2 separate regions of the Homo sapiens genome follow, and region 2 is linked to region 1. Evidence: fine-mapped expression QTL. Tissue or cell type: whole blood. Region 1 holds a variant in brackets; the other region holds the start of a gene. All regions are shown on one strand. Distances are between the middles of the regions. Region 1 overlaps CTSC (cathepsin C). Region 2 holds the start of CTSC (cathepsin C).

What was found. PIP is the estimated chance that this variant, and not a neighbour inherited with it, causes the effect.
Region 2: CTSC starts here. The variant in region 1 is fine-mapped to the expression of CTSC in whole blood (TOPMed, PIP 0.97).

Annotation. Positions count from the first base shown.
Region 1 is chr11:88,309,802-88,318,760 of GRCh38, reverse strand. CTSC (cathepsin C) reads left to right here. Exons shown (of 7, transcript NM_001814.6): 3 at 6,207-6,373. Among named protein-coding and RNA genes, the nearest start is that of CTSC, 23 kb to the left of the region's middle. RefSeq lists a silencer at 5,673-5,873. The variant A/G (reference allele first, on the strand shown) is at 5,653.
Region 2 is chr11:88,333,417-88,342,375 of GRCh38, reverse strand. It overlaps CTSC (cathepsin C), which reads left to right and starts at 4,640. Exons shown (of 7, transcript NM_001814.6): 1 at 4,640-4,875; 2 at 7,294-7,439. The coding sequence starts at 4,704. It overlaps LOC101929174 (a long non-coding RNA gene), which reads right to left and starts at 4,492. Exons shown (of 5, transcript NR_188511.1): 1 at 4,320-4,492. RefSeq lists an enhancer at 4,645-4,924.

The DNA.
Region 1 (8,959 bases):
CTAATTTTTGTATTATTAGTAGAGACAAGGTTTCACCATGTTGGTGAGGCTGCTCTCAAAATCCCGACTTCAGGTGATCCACCCGCCTCAGCCTCCTAAAGTGTTGGGATTACAGGCATGAGCCACTGCGCCTGGCCAATTGTATTTTTATGTTAGAAATATATATGGGAGTTACAATACTTTGTTTCCAATGTTCCGCTGGAAACCACTGGTTGAAAGGATAGGTCCCAGTGTCAGCTGCCCAGTTGGCAGTTTTGGATAGAATATAAGTTCTATGAAGGCATGGATGAAGTATCCTTCATGGTAATGATGGTAATGTTAGTATAGTCACTTGTTTAATGTTGTATAACTTTTTAACTCTTCCAACTTCAATTTCATCTATATCTTTCATAGCAGTCCAGTAAAGTAGTATCAATTATAGATATCATTCCTACTTTCAGATAAAGTAACTGAGGCTCACTAGTTTTGACTTGCTCAAGGTTACGTAAATGATAAGTGACAGACTGGATTTAAAGGGCGGAGTCCACTTTACTAAACTGCCTCTGTCTTCTAGCCAAGTTTGTTATGTAAAGTAAGTATTCAGACATTGGCTAAGTATATTATTAATCAAGAAAACAGTAGAACAGGTTTAAGGAATTTTTTTTTCCCTCTCCTCAGTGTCAAAAAGCAGTCAAGTAAAAGATCCAAGATAAATAACTTCAGTTCCCAAAAATAACTTCAATTCCAAAATTTCCCTATGACTAGGTATATCTAATTGGATAGCTGATAAAATGAGTGGGAAATTGAAGAAGGGATATTTTGAGAATGTGTGGCAACTTAATGGTAATATTGAAGAAGCAAATGGATAGTTATTGAATCATAATAGTTTTTTAAACTTAAATACTAGGGCTTGATCTTCATATTTTAGGAAATTATCTATTTGTTGCAGTAGAAATTAGCATAAATGAATGGAAACTTAAATTATCTCATCTGTGCAAGGCAGTCTTCAGAGACTGATGTTTATATAAGTGAAAACTCAGAAAAATTTTTTGGCTGCATTTCAAGCTGGATAGCGGGGTCAAAACTTCAACTTCTTAATTGGTGATACAACGTCAGAAATCACAAAAGAAGTATTTCACAGGAAAAAATGACATACCCCGAAAACATTCAAATCAAGAAAATCACAGGGGTACAGTGGATGGTCCCCCTTAAGGTACTGCGTACTTGGCTTCCCCGCTGGTAAATGCCTCTCTTTTACTAAGTTGTTGTCGTGCAGAGTGGCATTGCAGCTCTGTACTTTTACAGAATAATTTCAGGTTCTAAAATTGATACATTATTTCAGATTGTAAGAATAGTATAAAATAAAATTTTAAAAGGGAAAATAATTCCATCAATTTAATGGAATGTGTAGGGTTTAAGTTATAACAACAAAAACAAAGTTGTAGTTTTTTAGGATTACTCATATAAATAGTGTGTCTATTAAGAATTACTGGCTTTATGAATATTAAATAAGAAGGCTGGCCGTGGTGGATCATGCCTGTAATCCCAGCACTTTGGGAGGCCGAGGCAGACGGATCACCTGAGGTCAGGAGTTCAAGACCAGCCTGGCCAACATGGCGAAACCCTGTCTCTACTAAAAATACAAAAATTAGCCGGGCGTGGTGACGCATGCCTGTAATCCCAGCTACTCAGGCGGCTGAGGCAGGAGAATTGCTTGAACCCGGAAGACGGAGGTTGCAGTGAGCTGAGATCGCGCCACTGCACTCCAGCCTGGGTGACAGAACAAGACTCCATCTTGAAAAAAAAAAAAAATTAAGACAACCACAGATATAAGGATTTGCAATTAGAAAGCTTGAAGGGAAATTTTTGGAACTTCTAGGTCAACCTAAAATTACAAATAGGGAAGCAGCTTTGGAGAGGAACATTTGCACTTCTGAAGTAATACTGTGATTTGGACTGTCAGACATTGTGATATATTGGCATCACCACACCTCTGTTAATTATAAACTTACCTATTCTCAGTGCCTTGTTAACTGTTGAAATAGGACTTGACATTTGTTGTTCTTCCTCTTCTGTTATTCATTTATTCACTCATTTAGTAGTTAATTACTTCCTAGTGCCAGATAGTTTTCTAGGTACTGAATAAACAAAAATCCTATTGTCATAGTTATGTTTTTGTGGAAAGAACAACCTGATAGACTATCGTGAAAAATAAATGAGTTAGTATACATAAAACACAGCCCATGAGATATAGTCTGTAATTATCATCCCTGCTTCATTTATTTATTTATTTATTTATTTATTTAGAGAATGGATCTGATTCTGTCATCCAGGCCGGAGTTCAGTGGCTGGATCATTGCTCACTGTAACCTCAAAACACCTGGCCTCAAGTGATTCCCCCAACCTCGGCGTTCCAAAGTGCTGGGATTAAAGGCATGAGCCACTGTACCTGGCCATTGCTCCTGTTTTAAAGATGAGGAAACTGAAAGTACAGAGAGGAACGTGACTTGCTCAGGATCACACAGCCAATCAGTGGCAGAGCAGTCTAGGCAGTCTAGGCCTGAAGGCATTATTCTTTCTTTCTGTTCTGCGTCAAAAACCCTAGGCAGGCATGGTAAAAAGACTGAAAGAGCCAAGGCAACATAGGTACCTGAAGAATGGGAGAACACCTATGAGGACTGCTAGAAATTTTAGGCAGCCCTTTAAAGGCCTTGGGCAACAATTTGAACGTGACTCATGAGTCAGTTAATTCTCTGCACCTTTTTTTTTTTAGAGAATACAATGGATAAAGCAATGACCTTTGTAACATGTAAACCTGTATTTGAATCCTTTCCTCTCCATTTAATTTTGCAGAGTCACCTTTTCTTCATTAGAAAGAAATTTTATCCCAAAGAGATTATCGTGAGGCTCAAATAATATAGGTGGAAGCCCTTTGGGTTTAAAAAAAAGCCTTTTCTGTCATTTCTGGGTATCTCCCGTCAGTGATTTTAGTAATTGTTTACCTCTCTGGCTCTTCGTGAGAAGACAAATTGTAGGAAGAAGTGGAGGATGGCATTGGGTAGGATGCTTAGTTCTAGTTCCACCACTTCCTTAGGTCTTTTTTTTGTCCCCCAAGACTATATCATTTCTGTGTTCTCTTGAACCTGTAAGATTTATGAGTAATCTGTACAATATTTATAAAGTATGAAATCTCTGCCATTGTGGCACAAAAGTAGCCATAGACAATGTATAAATGAATGGGCATGCTGTTCTCCAGTAAAACTATATTTATAGAAATAGGCAGTCTTCTCCAATTTTAGTTTGCTCACCCCTTTCCTATAGAACTCAGGTTTATCATATACAATGTTACACATTATTCCTTTGAATAAATTGTTTACCTAATACTTTTTAAATTTGGGCATTTTCTAGGACATTCTATTGTTTTTATTTTTAACTTGTGTTATACTGCAGTGAATGTCTTCCTGTGTGTAGCATTTTGTTTGTGTATGTGTGTCAATATCTATAAAGTAGCTCTTAAGAACTCTGGAAACATTGTCAGACTGCTTCCTCAAACAGCAGAGGTGGGAGGGAGCATCGGCCTAACCCTACCTGGCCTGCCTTACCAGCATGCAACCAAGGAGAAGAGAATAGGATCAAGAGCCAGTGCCAGAGAGAAGTACATAATACAACTTTATGGAGTTTAGGTTGCATCCTATAAAGTTACCATGTTACACTGTTTCGATCTACCAAAGTAGAAGTTTTACATAGTTTAGTATGAAGTTAATTTTATTAACCTTTTCACACAACACACCCTCTCATATTGCTGCCCAACAATGTCCTGGGTCTTTGTTTCCATGGTCATCATATTGAGTAGGGTTTTAGCAGGGACTTGAGTAGTTGGGAACTGAACTCATGCTAGTGAAGCCATTCTTCACTAGAAGCAGACATATGGGATCCAGAATATCATGAACAACCAGCTGGGTACAGTGGCTCACACCTGTAATCCCAGCACTTTGGGAGGCTGAAGGAAGCAGATCACCTCAGGTCAGGAGTTTGAGACCAGCCTGGCCAACATGGTGAAACCCTATCTCTACTAAAAATACAAAAATTAGCCAGGCCTGGTAGCACATGCCTGTAGTCGCAGCTACTTGGGAGGCTGAGGCAGGAGAATCGCTTGAACCTGGGAGGCGGAGGTTGCAGTGAGCCGACATCTCGCCAGTGTACTCCAGCCTGGGCAACAGAGTGAGACTCTGTCTGAAAAAAAGAGAATATCATGAATATCACCAAAGATAAAAGCAAGATGCGGATATGAGTAGCCCAGAGTAACTTTTCCTGTGCTATATAACACAGTGAGTGGTGATTCCCACAATTCAAGTCCAGTTTTTCTGGATTCTAAAGCCATACATTTTTAACTCTCCCCCTAAATATGATTTGAATTCAGAGAGTCAGATGCAATAAGGTAATTTTAACTTTAAGTGTAGTTTAGCCCACACATTTCTCTAAACTGGGGGTTGGCAAACTACAAACCTCTTTTTGTAAGTAAAGTTTTATTGGAACACAGCCTAGCTCATTCATTTATGTATTCCCTTTGCACCTTTTAGGTTGAGTAGTTGTGACTGAGGTCTTCCAGCCTTCAAGCCTAAAATATTTACTATCTAGTCCTTCAAAAAGAAGTTTGCCAACCTCTGCAAACAAGTGAAATAATGTGTATTAGAGTAGAGCAGGAGTCCACAAACTACAACCTCTGGAGCCAAAACCACCCTACTGTCTGTTTTTGTAAACAGAAATTTTATAGAAACATAGTTGACCCCTGTGCCAATTTGTTTGAGTCTTGCTTTTGATGGCTTTTGTGCTACAAGGGCAGAGTTGAACAGTTGCAAGAGAACTAAGTGGCCTGCAAAGCCTAGTGGTCTTTGCTGTCTGGCCATTATAGGAAGTGTTTACCAAACCCTGCATTTGATCATGGAATCCCAGAATGTTTATACCTTTGAGGATTTTTTTTTCTACTTTCCATATTTTACAGGCAACAGAACTAAAGCCTCGTAAAATCTTGCCCAAGGTTCTACAAATAGTCTTTTCTATTAAATTAAGTCAGAGCCTGAAATTGTCTGTGCCCAAGTCTCTCCTCAGAAATTTAGCACAGCATTTTCCCTTTCTGTCTCCCACATGCTACACAGTCATCCTGGATCATGTGCCCCGCCTCCATGAGGAGATGTTCTAACATGAGGGTGACTAGGCTCTGGAGCCAGAGCATCTTAGTTCAAATCCTGGATCTGTTAAAAATAATAGTTATTTTTCAGTTCTAACACTGAAATAAGACAAAAGGCCATATTACTGAAATAAAGTGTAAAGAATATATTTAATACTCAGGTTACTTTAGCCCCCTCATGATCAGAATATGCTAATAAATTGAGAGATTGACAGAAAAAAAGGATTCTGTTTCACTGTGGCTCACACCTGTAATCCCATCACTTTGGGAGGCCGAGGTGGGTGGATCACTTGTCTGGAGTTCAAGACCAGCCTGGCCAACATGGCAAAACCCCGTCTCTACTAAACAATACAAAAATTAGCCAGGCGTGGTGGTAAGCACCTTTAATCCCAGCTACTCGGGAGGTTGAGGCAAGAGAATCGCTTGAACCTGGGAGGTGCAAGTTGCAGTGAGCCAAGATCACACCACTGCACTCCAGCCTGGGC[A/G]ACACAGCAAGACTCCATCCCTGGAAAAAAAAAGTTCATCATTTGTTCTTGTAGTTTCCTAGTGTGGCCCTTGTCTCAGTGGAAAATTGTAGTGTGATAGACTGAGGAGAATTCTGTTTCTGCCACTTCGCCTGTTGCCTTGGTAGGAGCTCCTTATCTCTGAGCTGAGCTCCTTTTGTCCTTGGTAAAATGTGGTTATTATCATCTGCATCCTCATAGTCTTCTTGTAAGGACTGTGAAGTCACTTTTGAAAAATGCCTTGAATATGCCAGATGGTCTGTTTTCTTTCTTTTTTGTTTTGTTTTGTTTTGTTTTCCCTTGGCCTTCATTCCTGGAAGTGTTTTGTTATATACATTTTGTTTGGTGGCCAACAGTGCTAACCACAGAAAAGTTTGTATGTCTTCTTTTTCTAGAATAATTCTTACAGTGTAACCTCTCAGGGTGAAGTTTTTGTTTTGAAAGGGGCACATTTACTGTGAATGAGAGCCATGGAAATGGACCTGAAATTTGAAGACAGATTTTACTTGGTTTTCTTTTCTCTTATTTGTTTGCAGTATAAAGAAGAGGGCAGCAAGGTGACCACTTACTGCAACGAGACAATGACTGGGTGGGTGCATGATGTGTTGGGCCGGAACTGGGCTTGTTTCACCGGAAAGAAGGTGGGAACTGCCTCTGAGAATGTGTATGTCAACATAGCACACCTTAAGAATTCTCAGGAAAAGTGAGTTGCTACAAATGAGACATACGTTTAGTTTTGTTTTATAGTATATATGAATATGTGTGTACATTTTTGGAATTTTAGTTTGATTATACAAAATATCTTTGGCTTAGAAATATTAGGCATGCTATGTAAAACCTTACTGGAAAAATAAATTGACCAACATTATTGAGAGTATTTTTTCAAAGTGTTCCAAAAGTAATGGACCAATGATTACTTTAAATGAAATCATGTAATGGACCACAGAATTGCAAATTACTAATAAAGAAAAGCCATTTTGCTTATTGCCATGTAATAACATGTTGCATGATACAAGTAGATACGTATGTTTATGCTGCAACAAGTATAGGTGATACTAATTGGGCAACTTTTAAACAAGACCATAAATAACTGAAATCAAAGTTCTTAGTATTTATGCAGCCTGTTGGTTTGCGAGGGCTGCCATAACAAAGTACCACAGACTGGGTGGCTTAAGGAAGGTTGTTTTTTCACAGTTTTGGAGGCTAGAAGTCCAAGATTGAGGTGTTGTCAGGTTTGGTTTCTTCCAAGGCCACACTCCTTGGCTTGCAGATGTCTGCTTGCTTACTGGGCTCCTAAACAGTCTTTTCTGATTGTCCTAATGTCCTCTTCTTATAAGGGCATCAGTCATATTGGATTGGGGCCCACCCATATGACCTAATTTTACCTTAATGACCTCTTTAAAGCTCTGTCTCCAAATACAGTCATATGGCTGTGATACAGGGGGTTAGAATTTCAACGTATGAATTTTGAGGGGGACACAATTCAGACTATAAACTGCAGTTAATGTTTACTGTTAAATTAAATCTATAACTGACTAAACCACACAAACAGGAGATTTCAAATTAGACTTTATTAGTTTTGGAAGGAAGAGATGAAATGTTGTTACTTTTTCTGTTTTATGTAGTTGTAAAAGCCACTAAAAATGTACATGTACAAATCATCCCAAGCCAGGCAACATTAGTAATGAATGACTGCAGCACAGAGGTAAGAGAGATGATTTAAAGGAGGATGAATTGTCTGCAAAGGTGCTGGGCAAGATCTAGACTAATTCATCCCCTTCATTTTAAGTTTAGGTTTTAAATAGCTTTGTTTGGCTTGATCCTAGAGCTACACATTTACTTTTAACTTGTTTACTTTGTACCCTATCATTTAGGATATGCTATGTACTATTGTACTCTATTTGATATTTCAAACATTCTCTCATTTAGTGAAGAAGCTCCCAACCGGAGTGCTCAGAACCTACATTGCCTCACCTGTGAAGTGAGCATGTGGGACTGAATTGCCTTTGAGGTCTCTTTCAGCTCTTAATGATCTGTTATCCCATAGTAAGATACATTATTTTTAATCTCGTTGGATCTTAAACACCAAAAATAATAGTATTTAAGACGTAGGATGCTATCTTGTCATTATTTTAATGCACATGTCAACACACGAGGTTTTGCTAGATGTTATGATAAAGCAAGCGAAACAGCAGGCTACTGCTCCTCAAATATCTACAGTCAATGAAATATTGACTGGCGTTGTGGGAAAATATCTCAAAAGTATTTTATTTACAATTTAAAATATATTCTTTTGCCTAAAGAAACAATGAAACAACTATAACTTGTTTTTGTTATTGTGTTAGTGTAGTCATACATATGATACAGTTTTATAATCTGCTTGATAAGGGTACGTCTCTGGGTTTTTCACACTTTGCAACAAGTGGGAAAGAACTTCGACAAAAACATTAAAACATTATCAACCTGGTTGCACGTTTTTCTGATTATTTTCAGTGCTCTTAGGTTTTTAGACCATATCAAAATTCTCTCTCTACACACATGATTTATAAGGGAAAGAAAAGTTTGCAGTATGCCTAAAATGTTCCTCAGGTTAATTATATCTTGTTTTGCATAGTTGAATGTTTATGGAAGTCTTAGATAGTGAGTCACTCTGAAACCACAGACTCTTTTTTAATAGTAATAATATGGTGAGTTCTATAATTCCTAGCATCTAGCACACAGGTATGATAAATGTTTTAATTAAGTGAATAATCAGCTTCCTGAATTTTTCTACTTTGTAAATATGCTCTTTGTGTGTTGAATCTATTTACATATATATCCAAGCATTTGGCACAAGGTAAACCAATGTGGCTCAGATTTTAATGTTATTGTGAATCACTTGGGGATCTTGTTTAAAAAAAAAAAAAAAAAGGAGATTCTGATTCAGGTGATCTGGGCTGAGTACTTACAGTATGCATTTCTAATAAACTTCTGGGTGTTGCTACTGATATTGGTTCAAGAACTAAATTCTGAGTAACAAGTATAAACCGAATGTCCATAAAGTATAATTTCTTTTAGTATCATATGGTTATAATGCTTGCATTTTGTATATATGTTGCATACAGGTTTTGCTTTTCTCTTTTTTCTTATTAAAAAGGTTATAAAGGTACACTGTAGAAACTGTAGGGAGTAGGGGAAAGCTTGGCATCTCATGCCACCATTCAGAGGTAACCATGTTTGGCATTTTAAAAATGCATTTATAGTGTGTGTGTGTGTGTGTGTGTGTGTGTGTGTGTGCGCGCATACATAT
Region 2 (8,959 bases), 24 kb before region 1:
AACATTAGAAAATTTGAAGCCTGGCCACCTTAACAGTGAAAGGGGTGTTTGGGTATGGTCAAGAGATTGCTAAAGAGGTCACCATGGATAGAATGAAGCCAAAGGCTATCCATGACAATGAAATTAAAAACCCCAGAGGCATTTCTGGGATCTTTGAGGCTGCCCCTTCCTCATAGGCCCTGAGCTCTAAGAGGGCAGAATAATTCCGGGGATGGACTGCTGCCCAGGGCTGCTTTGGGTCTCTACTCCCTGCGTTCCAGCACACTGCTCCTCAGCGCCCCCAGCTGTGGTTCAAGCAGCCACAGGTGCAGATTAACCTGCAGCTCTAGGATGTACAAGTGGTAAACCATGGCAGTATCCATGTGGTACTAATTCTGCAGGTGCATAGAATGCAAGAGCTGTGGAGGCCTGGCAGCCTCCACCTAGATTTTGAAGAATGTGTTGGACTGTCTGAGGGTAGAGCTACTGCAGAGAGCTTCCACTAGGGCAATACGAAGTGGAACAGTGGAACTGGGGTTGTTGCATAGAGCCCCCCTAAGGGCAATGCCTAATGCAGCTGTAAGAGCCAGACTGCCACCAGGACCCCAGAACAGTAGAGCCACCAGCAGCATGCAATACCTGCCTGGGAAAGCTGAGGGCACCAGGGTGCCTTGAGGCCTCCTGAAATACCCCATCCCCCAATGTGCACAAGATGCTGTACATGGAATCAAGAAAGATTATTCTCCAGCCTTAAAATTTAAGTCTTCTCTGCTGAGTTTTTGACTTGCTTGGGCCTGTTACTTCTTTCTTCTGGCCTGTTTGTCTCTTTTGGAAAGGGAGTGTATACCTTATACCTGTCCCACCATTGTATCTAGGAAGTAGATAACTTGTTTTGATTTCACAAACTCCCAGATGACACTTTAGACTTTTGAGTTGGTGCTGGAACAAATTCAGTCTTTTGGGACTACTAGGATGGAATGACTGTATTTTGAATTGTGAGAAGGCCATGAATTCTGGGGGTCAGGGACAGAATGCTGTGGTTTGAACATAGGTTGTCCCCCAAAAGTCATGTGTCGAGAGGTGGGACCTTTGAGAAGTGATTGGCAGTGCCCTCATGAATGGATGAATCTATCATGGGTTAATAGATTAATGGATTATGGAATTATCAAGGATTAGTTATCATGAGGGTGGGTCTGTAATAAGCACTAGTTTGGCCATCTCTCATGACCCCCTTTGCCACGTGATACCCTGTACTACCTTGGGATTCTGCAAAGAGTCTCAACCAGCAAGAAGGGCCCCCTTCGATGGGGCCTCTTGACCTTGGACTTACCTGTCTCTAGAACTATAAAAAATAATTTTCTTTGTTTTAAATTACCGAGTCTCAGGTACAGTTCTAGCAACAGAAAACAGACTAAGACAGATGCTGATGTCCCTGGTCCTAGGCTACACTTTGAGAACCACTGCCAAGTAATGCTGCCTCTCTGTAAACCTGCTTTTAATGATGGGAGCCTACTGACAGACCATGTTTTGCACATAAGCTCACTTTTGTTTTATATAATTTTAACATATACTGAATTTTTGGGAATGCAACCTCTTGATAAACCTTCAACAGAAAATTCTACTTTGTTCTCCTGGGAATTTGACCAAGAATTGTCCAACATCAACAACTTTGGTATGGTGTTTGAGTGATTAATTGATAAGGTATTTGAGTTATAACTCATCAGAAATCATTTGTGCTCTCAGAAAAAAGTTCCTATCACATTTACCACGATTCTACAATTTTACATAGAAGTGAAACCACCTTTGCAAAAATTACAACTGTGAAAGAAATCAGACCTAATCGACTCCATCTTGCTTCTAATCTTTAAGCTGTCCTTTTTCATTCCTGGGCATAGGTGGAACAAACTTTGGGAAGTAATTCAGTTCATGGTTTGACTCTGAAACAAAATTGATAATAGCCCTTTCCCAAAAAGACTCCCTTCTTGCCTGGGGACCAGTCTGCCTTCGCAGGACTAACAAATTAGCTACAAGATTAGAAATTACAGTTTAGGGGTCATGTGGCCTCTGGCTCCAAGAGTCTGCACCCTCCCACCCTCCAAGTTGCTTCTGGGGATAACATCTCTATTGTAAAATCTAAGATCAGTGCTTGAGATATTTTACAGACCCTGCACTCCATAGATCAGCTGACACCACTGAGACCAGCAATCTGGCTCAACCATATCTGCCATCCCACCCAGGAACAGAAGATAGCAAGAAAAACTCACTTAGACCCCCTATGATTCCATCTCCAACCTAACCAATCAGCACTCCCCACTTCCCAAGCCCCTACCCACCAAATTATCTTTGAAAACTCTGATCCCTGAATGCTCGGGGAGACTGATTTGAGTGATAATAAAACTCCCGTCTCCCCCACAGCCGGCTCTGTATGAATTACTCTTCCTCCATTGCAATTCCCCTGTCTTGATAAATTGGCTCTGTCTAGGCAGCAGGCCAGGTGAATCCATTGGGTGGTTACAGAAGTGTGAAGAGCAAGTATCTGAGTGCCTCATTATGTTTTCCAACACAGTCATACTTGAACATTTTACATGATGGGATATAACTTATTATACTAGAAATATATTTAAAATATCTGATTTCTTCTTTATATTACATTTGGCATTACATTTCTTTTTATTAAGTGTGTAAGCAGTTTATATATTAATTTCATTTCAGAAAGTAAAGGATTTGGGGTCTGATCAGTTTGAGAATCAATTTTTTGTGTGTGCGTGGAATGGAGAGTTAGTAGTTATTTTTGAGAGAGAACAGTATGGGAATTATTAGATTAGTAGAAATAAACTAAACTGAAAATCAATGTGCCTGAGGTTCATTCTTAAATCTTACTAAGTGGCAATATGACATTCAGCAAGTGATTTAACTCTCTGAATCTCCATTTCCCAATTTTAAAATGAATCCATTAGACTAAGAGGTCCACAAGATCTTTTTCTATTATTCAATCATTGAATAAAGACTGTTTTAAACTTTCTTTACAATTAAGTGTGTTGCTTTGATTACATTCATCAAAGAAATTTCCACCTAAACTGGCTCTTCAATATTGATGACCTAATACAAATTTAATGTTTTAACAATCAGTAACACACCTTCCTAGAGATTCAGGAAGGGAAGCTTAATCTGTCAGGGTATCTTTAAATAAATAGTGTGTTAGCTTAATTATACAATGTCAGCTTTCAATTCTAAGAAGGTATATAAAACCTAAAAGCAAGGTGTTCCCCAACCCCCCGCCACCAACCCCGCCCCAGGCTTTGGAAATTTGTGCCCCCATTGAAGAGTATTTTCACCTCTGAACTTTCAAGGACAACTCCTTTTGCCTCATTGAAACTGGCTTTCAAGCTTGGCAACCAAGATAAGAATATTAAGTACACTTATTTTAACACTCAAGGACACTTTCTGAATAAACCAGAATCTAGGGAGATATAAGTGAATAATTTGGACCTGCTCTCTTTGAATGTTTATAATCTGGTGGAAAAAAAATGGACATATGAATATTGATTTGTGACCAGTGCAAAGGGGGCAAAAATTCATATCCCAAAGAAAACGGGGACACATCAGGTCTGTCTTGTTCATCACTGTGTCCACAGGGCCTGACACCTAGTAGGCTCAGTGGGAGAAAGGAGCCCCAATTACCAACAAAAGCCAGGAAAGAACGGGAGGCTCTTACGGAAAAGGGTGATACTTAAACTGAGCAAGGAGGCACCTGGAAATAGTGCCACCTAATAATTTTTGGCGATCAGACTGACACACTAGAACGGTTCATAAGACCAGCCTTCTCCCATTGGCTAGCTTCCTTCCTCACCCTTCTCACCCTGGGCAAGCCGCTTCCTCTCTCTGGGCCTCTTGCTTTTCCTCTGTAACATAAAAGGGGTTGAGCAATATCATCTCTGAGAGCGCCATGTGTGTGCGTGCCAGAGGGAAAACCCCCACAACGCTAATACATCAAAACTGCAGGTTTGCACAAAAACTGAATTCTGCTGAATGCAAACAGGCAAACAGCATTTACCAGGAAACAAAACAAAATCAAGCACATAAAAAAGTAGGAAGAGTTGGAAAACGGAAGGAAGATAAGTTCTCAAACAGCTGGAATAGTTGATGTTAGCTAGCGAAGTTTTTCAGAGGAAAAAACAAGAAGTTGGTTATGAGGCAAGTGGACCTGAGAAAAAAGACTAAAGGGGAAGAATAGCAAGTAAAACAGAACTCCACTTGCTAGATCTCTCCCTCTGTCGCGCTCTTTCACCTGACCCACTCCCTTATTCCCCCCACACCCTTTCCTTCTCTCCCTACGTTACCGCACAGGAACGAAGTCTGGGTCATGTGCGGACCGCTTGTGGCTCTTAAATCCTCTTTTTGTCACCCTGGCCGTGCAAAATTTTGAAACGTCCCTCGGCAAAAAAAATAAAAATAAAAAAAAAAAATCTGTCCCTGGCCTCTTCCCTAGTTCTGGGTCCAGTTGCAGCCAAGTGAGGGGCAGCGCGCGCTCCCAAGTCCCCGTTTCAGAGACGCGCACGCGCCTGGCGCCCAACCCCCAATCCCCTGCTGCTCAGTGACCCCGCCCACGGGTTTCCGGGCCGGCGTAGCTATTTCAAGGCGCGCGCCTCGTGGTGGACTCACCGCTAGCCCGCAGCGCTCGGCTTCCTGGTAATTCTTCACCTCTTTTCTCAGCTCCCTGCAGCATGGGTGCTGGGCCCTCCTTGCTGCTCGCCGCCCTCCTGCTGCTTCTCTCCGGCGACGGCGCCGTGCGCTGCGACACACCTGCCAACTGCACCTATCTTGACCTGCTGGGCACCTGGGTCTTCCAGGTGGGCTCCAGCGGTTCCCAGCGCGATGTCAACTGCTCGGTTATGGGTAAGCCGCCGGCTCGGCAGTCCTCCGGGTCGTCCTTTCTGCCCTTGAGCCCCTAACGCAGCGCCACGCCAACTACCGCTTCCCCCCAGGCAGACGCTTGTGGGTGGCCAGAGCATCTTGACTGGATTCGGGGACCCTTGGGGACCTTCTTCCCCGCCAGGCTCGCGAAGTTAAAGTTCATCTGCTGAGAACTTCTAACTCCACACTTTCTTGGTTATCTTGGGGACTCAACACTTTGATCAAGAACTTTTTTATTCCTCCCGCTTAATTTTGTTTGCTTTGAGAGAGACTTGGGAACTGCAATCGTTTGGTTCTCCAGTCCGATCTGGTAGCGTTATTTTTAAAATTTATTTTTATTTTTTATTACTATTTTACTAGTGAAGATAGATGAGCTCAGAGACTCTCGAGGATATAGCATGAAGTTTTCTCTTTTTGTTAGATGGTGGGAAAGGGACTTTCTGCCCAGCGATTTTGGTTTGAGCGGGTGTTGATGAGTACTAGAAAACGGCTAGTACCACTCTGCATTGTTTCATGCATTGCAAGGAGGTAAAAATTTTTTAAAAAATTAATAACAAAGAAAACTTAACTCTGAACCTAGTAATTAGAAATGCCCAGAGTCTGCACAATGTTTGGCTCATGGAAGGCTCTCAATAAATACCTAGTGTTTGAACATACTGGAGATATTCCATATGCCTTCAGATAACATGGTTACCCCTAGAACAAAGAACCTAGTGAAGGGGGTGGGGTGGAAAAAAGACAATCACTAGTTAGAAGAGTCACACTGTGGTCTACCCAAACCCTCTTACAGCCTGTGACTTCTGCAGAGTCAGTAAAAAATCAGCTATAATTTTCTTGTCAACAGAACAAAGATTAAGTCATTTGTTACTAAAGAAATACCTTTTTAACTGACTGTATAGCATTTCATAATCCTGAACATTGTAACTTTTTTTTTTTTTTTTTTGAGAATGGAGTCTTGCTCTGTCACCCAGGCTGTAGTTCAGTGGCGGGATCTCGGCTCACTGCAACCTCCGCCTCCCGGGTTTAAGCGATTCTCCTGCCTCAGTCTCCCGAGTAGCTAGGATTACGGGCACATGCCACCACGCCCGGCTAATATTTTGTATTTTTAGTAGAGACGGGTTTCACTGTGTTAGCCAGGATGGTCTCCATCTCCTGACCTCGTGATCCGCCCGCCTCGGCCTCCCAAAGTACTGGGATTACAGGCGGGAGTCACCACGCCTGGCCTTTTTTTTTTTTTTTTTTTTAAATTTGAGTTTGAAGGTTGGGGCAGAAAGAGATCAGGATTTGCACTGCCCTGTCACATGCAATCTCCCATGTCAGAGCATTACTCTCAAACATGGAAAAACTTTAAAATACACAACTCTCCAGATGGACACAGCTGAATCATTTTCAGGAAGGCTCTGCCTATAAAATTACCTTTGGCCTTAATTCAGTAATTAAAGGCACCCACAGGTCTGAGCCCTCATCTATGAAGGTTAAACGTATCATTCCTATCAGCACTAATTGGTTTTATAGGATACAGACCTCTAGTTTGCTGAATAAACTTTGGAAGGATTCAGATTATGAGGTTCTAAACTGTAGAGCCTTTGAGGAGAAAGGTACCCCATTTCTTCTCCGAATAGATCATTTTGTGTCTTCTCCTGGGCTTAGCACATTGTCTTCCTTAGGATCTGATAGTCTGTTTATTTATCTTTTTGTTGTCATACCTTTTATTCTTGCATTTCCCACTTTTGACTAGCATTTTGCCTTTTCTCCGTTTCTGGAAGCCTGTAATTTTCAACATTCCCCATTTCTCCTTTTGTTCAGTGGAAAAATTTCTTCAGTGTTGGGATGCTCTGGAAAGGTACTGTAGTTTTGGGGGTCTCCCTGCCTGCTGGGCTGCATAGCATATCTCTCTTTTTTGAGACAAGGTCTCACTGTGTTGCCCAGGTTGGAATGCAGTTGTGCAATCATAGCTCACTGCAGCCTCCAACTCCTGGGCTCAAGCAATCCTTCCACCTCAGCTTCAGCCGCTCAAATAGCTGGGACTACAGGCAATGCACCACCATAACCAGCGAATTTTTAAAAATTATTTTTGTAGAGACAGGGTCTCACTATGTTGCCCAAACTAGTCTTGAAGTTCTGACCTCAGCCCCGCAAAGTGCTAGGATTACAGGCGTGAGCCACTGCTTCTGCTTGCATTATCTCAAATTTTTAGAGCCTAACTTCACAGTCTTGCCTCGGAGCAGGAACTGTTTGAGGCAACAAGATGGAGCCTCTGGTTTCTTCACTAGGCAGACTGTGCTCAAACTGGGTAGCATGAAAGGAAAGCAGCACAATTAAAATTGAAATTGGGGGATTCTTTCCCCTATTGAAATCCAAATAATTTTCCTTTATTGTGCTTTTTTTTTTTTTCTTTAGGACCACAAGAAAAAAAAGTAGTGGTGTACCTTCAGAAGCTGGATACAGCATATGATGACCTTGGCAATTCTGGCCATTTCACCATCATTTACAACCAAGGCTTTGAGATTGTGTTGAATGACTACAAGTGGTTTGCCTTTTTTAAGGTTAGTTTTGTTGGAAGTTGGATTTACATTTTCAATGATTTGATATCTGAAACCTCTTCTGATTAGTAGACCCTCAGAATTTTAATTTTAGATTAAGAAGATGACCGGAATTGACACCACTCTTCCCAAGAGTAGTAGTAGTTGGTATAATTTTGCCACTTTATTTAAAATTATGATTTTAGTAGGTTTACAAAATACCAGTGCTACATTTGAATATGTATAAATTATGTTTAAAATTTACATTTTGGTAAGTATGACTAAATTCTTAATTTATTTTCCTTATTACTACCACTTTATTTCTAAATGTTGCCATAGTCATTTGGCTTTGTTCTAAATCTGTAGGAAAGATAGAGAGATTACACATTTTGTTTTCTTGCAGTTACTATGCTGTCCTTCCTATCACTACCTGTTGGCTGAGGTAGTGATAGGCCTAAATGATTCATTATCTTAAATGTACTAAATATGTTGAGTAATTTTTTCTTCTAAACTAACAGAAAGAGAGAACCTAGGAGTTACTCCCTTAGGCTGGTTAAAGTGAAAGGTAGCCAAGTCAACCCAGCTTGTTTCCTTCTCTCATTAGGAAAGAACTATTGTTCATTCTCATAACACACTTTTTCCAATTGCAAACATACTCAGGGTTAAAATAGTTTAGCACAAATTGCAGCCCATTTCATTTGTTCTTCACAAGCTGGAACTTTTCTTGTAAGCTAAATATTAAATGGTTCAAGTAAATTGGATACATAAGCCTGAAACTAGGCGTTTCTCATTATACATAGAGTATAAATTAAGACAGACTTTTTCATGGTGAAAGGTTTACAGCCTTTAAAACATCTGGGAAGAAGTGGGAAAGTAGGGAATAACTCTGTTAAATATGATAAAAGACAAAGCACCAACAAAGGCCTAGTTCTAAACTTGTTATAATTTCTCATGGGAGTTGTGGTTTGTCACAAGGTTATGGCGGTCCAAGCAAGTTTACAATATTTTTTAGAATAATAACTCCCAGAAATATTTTTAAAATAAGGACCTTTCTTTAATATGGAAAAAAAAAAGATGAAATAGAGAGGAAGAGGTTGCCTTTCCTCAACTGGATTTGCTGGTGTGATATGCAGCTGGTGGAAACCAGTTTGTCCATGCTAGCTGTTGATGGCCACCAGTCCACTGAATTAGTGGAAACCCATGCTTAACCAGTTGTTAACTATTTTTAGTATCATTTCCAGATGCTACGCATTTTTTTTGTAAAAAACATACTTACAATAGTATCTATATAAATTTTTAAAATTGTAATGTATATGTGGTATATTTAACCTGAAAATAATCTTTGGTGTATACGTTGATGAGCCTAGGCCTTTGCAGACCTCTTACAGTTACTCTGTCACAGCCCTTCAAAGGTTCTTTGACTTCAGATTAAGAATCAATTGCATGTGGAATGCATGTGCAAAGGAAGAGATATTCAAGGCAATTGTTACCATGTACCATAAACCTTGTACATAATTTTTTGTCATTTTCTTTTCCTCTGTCTC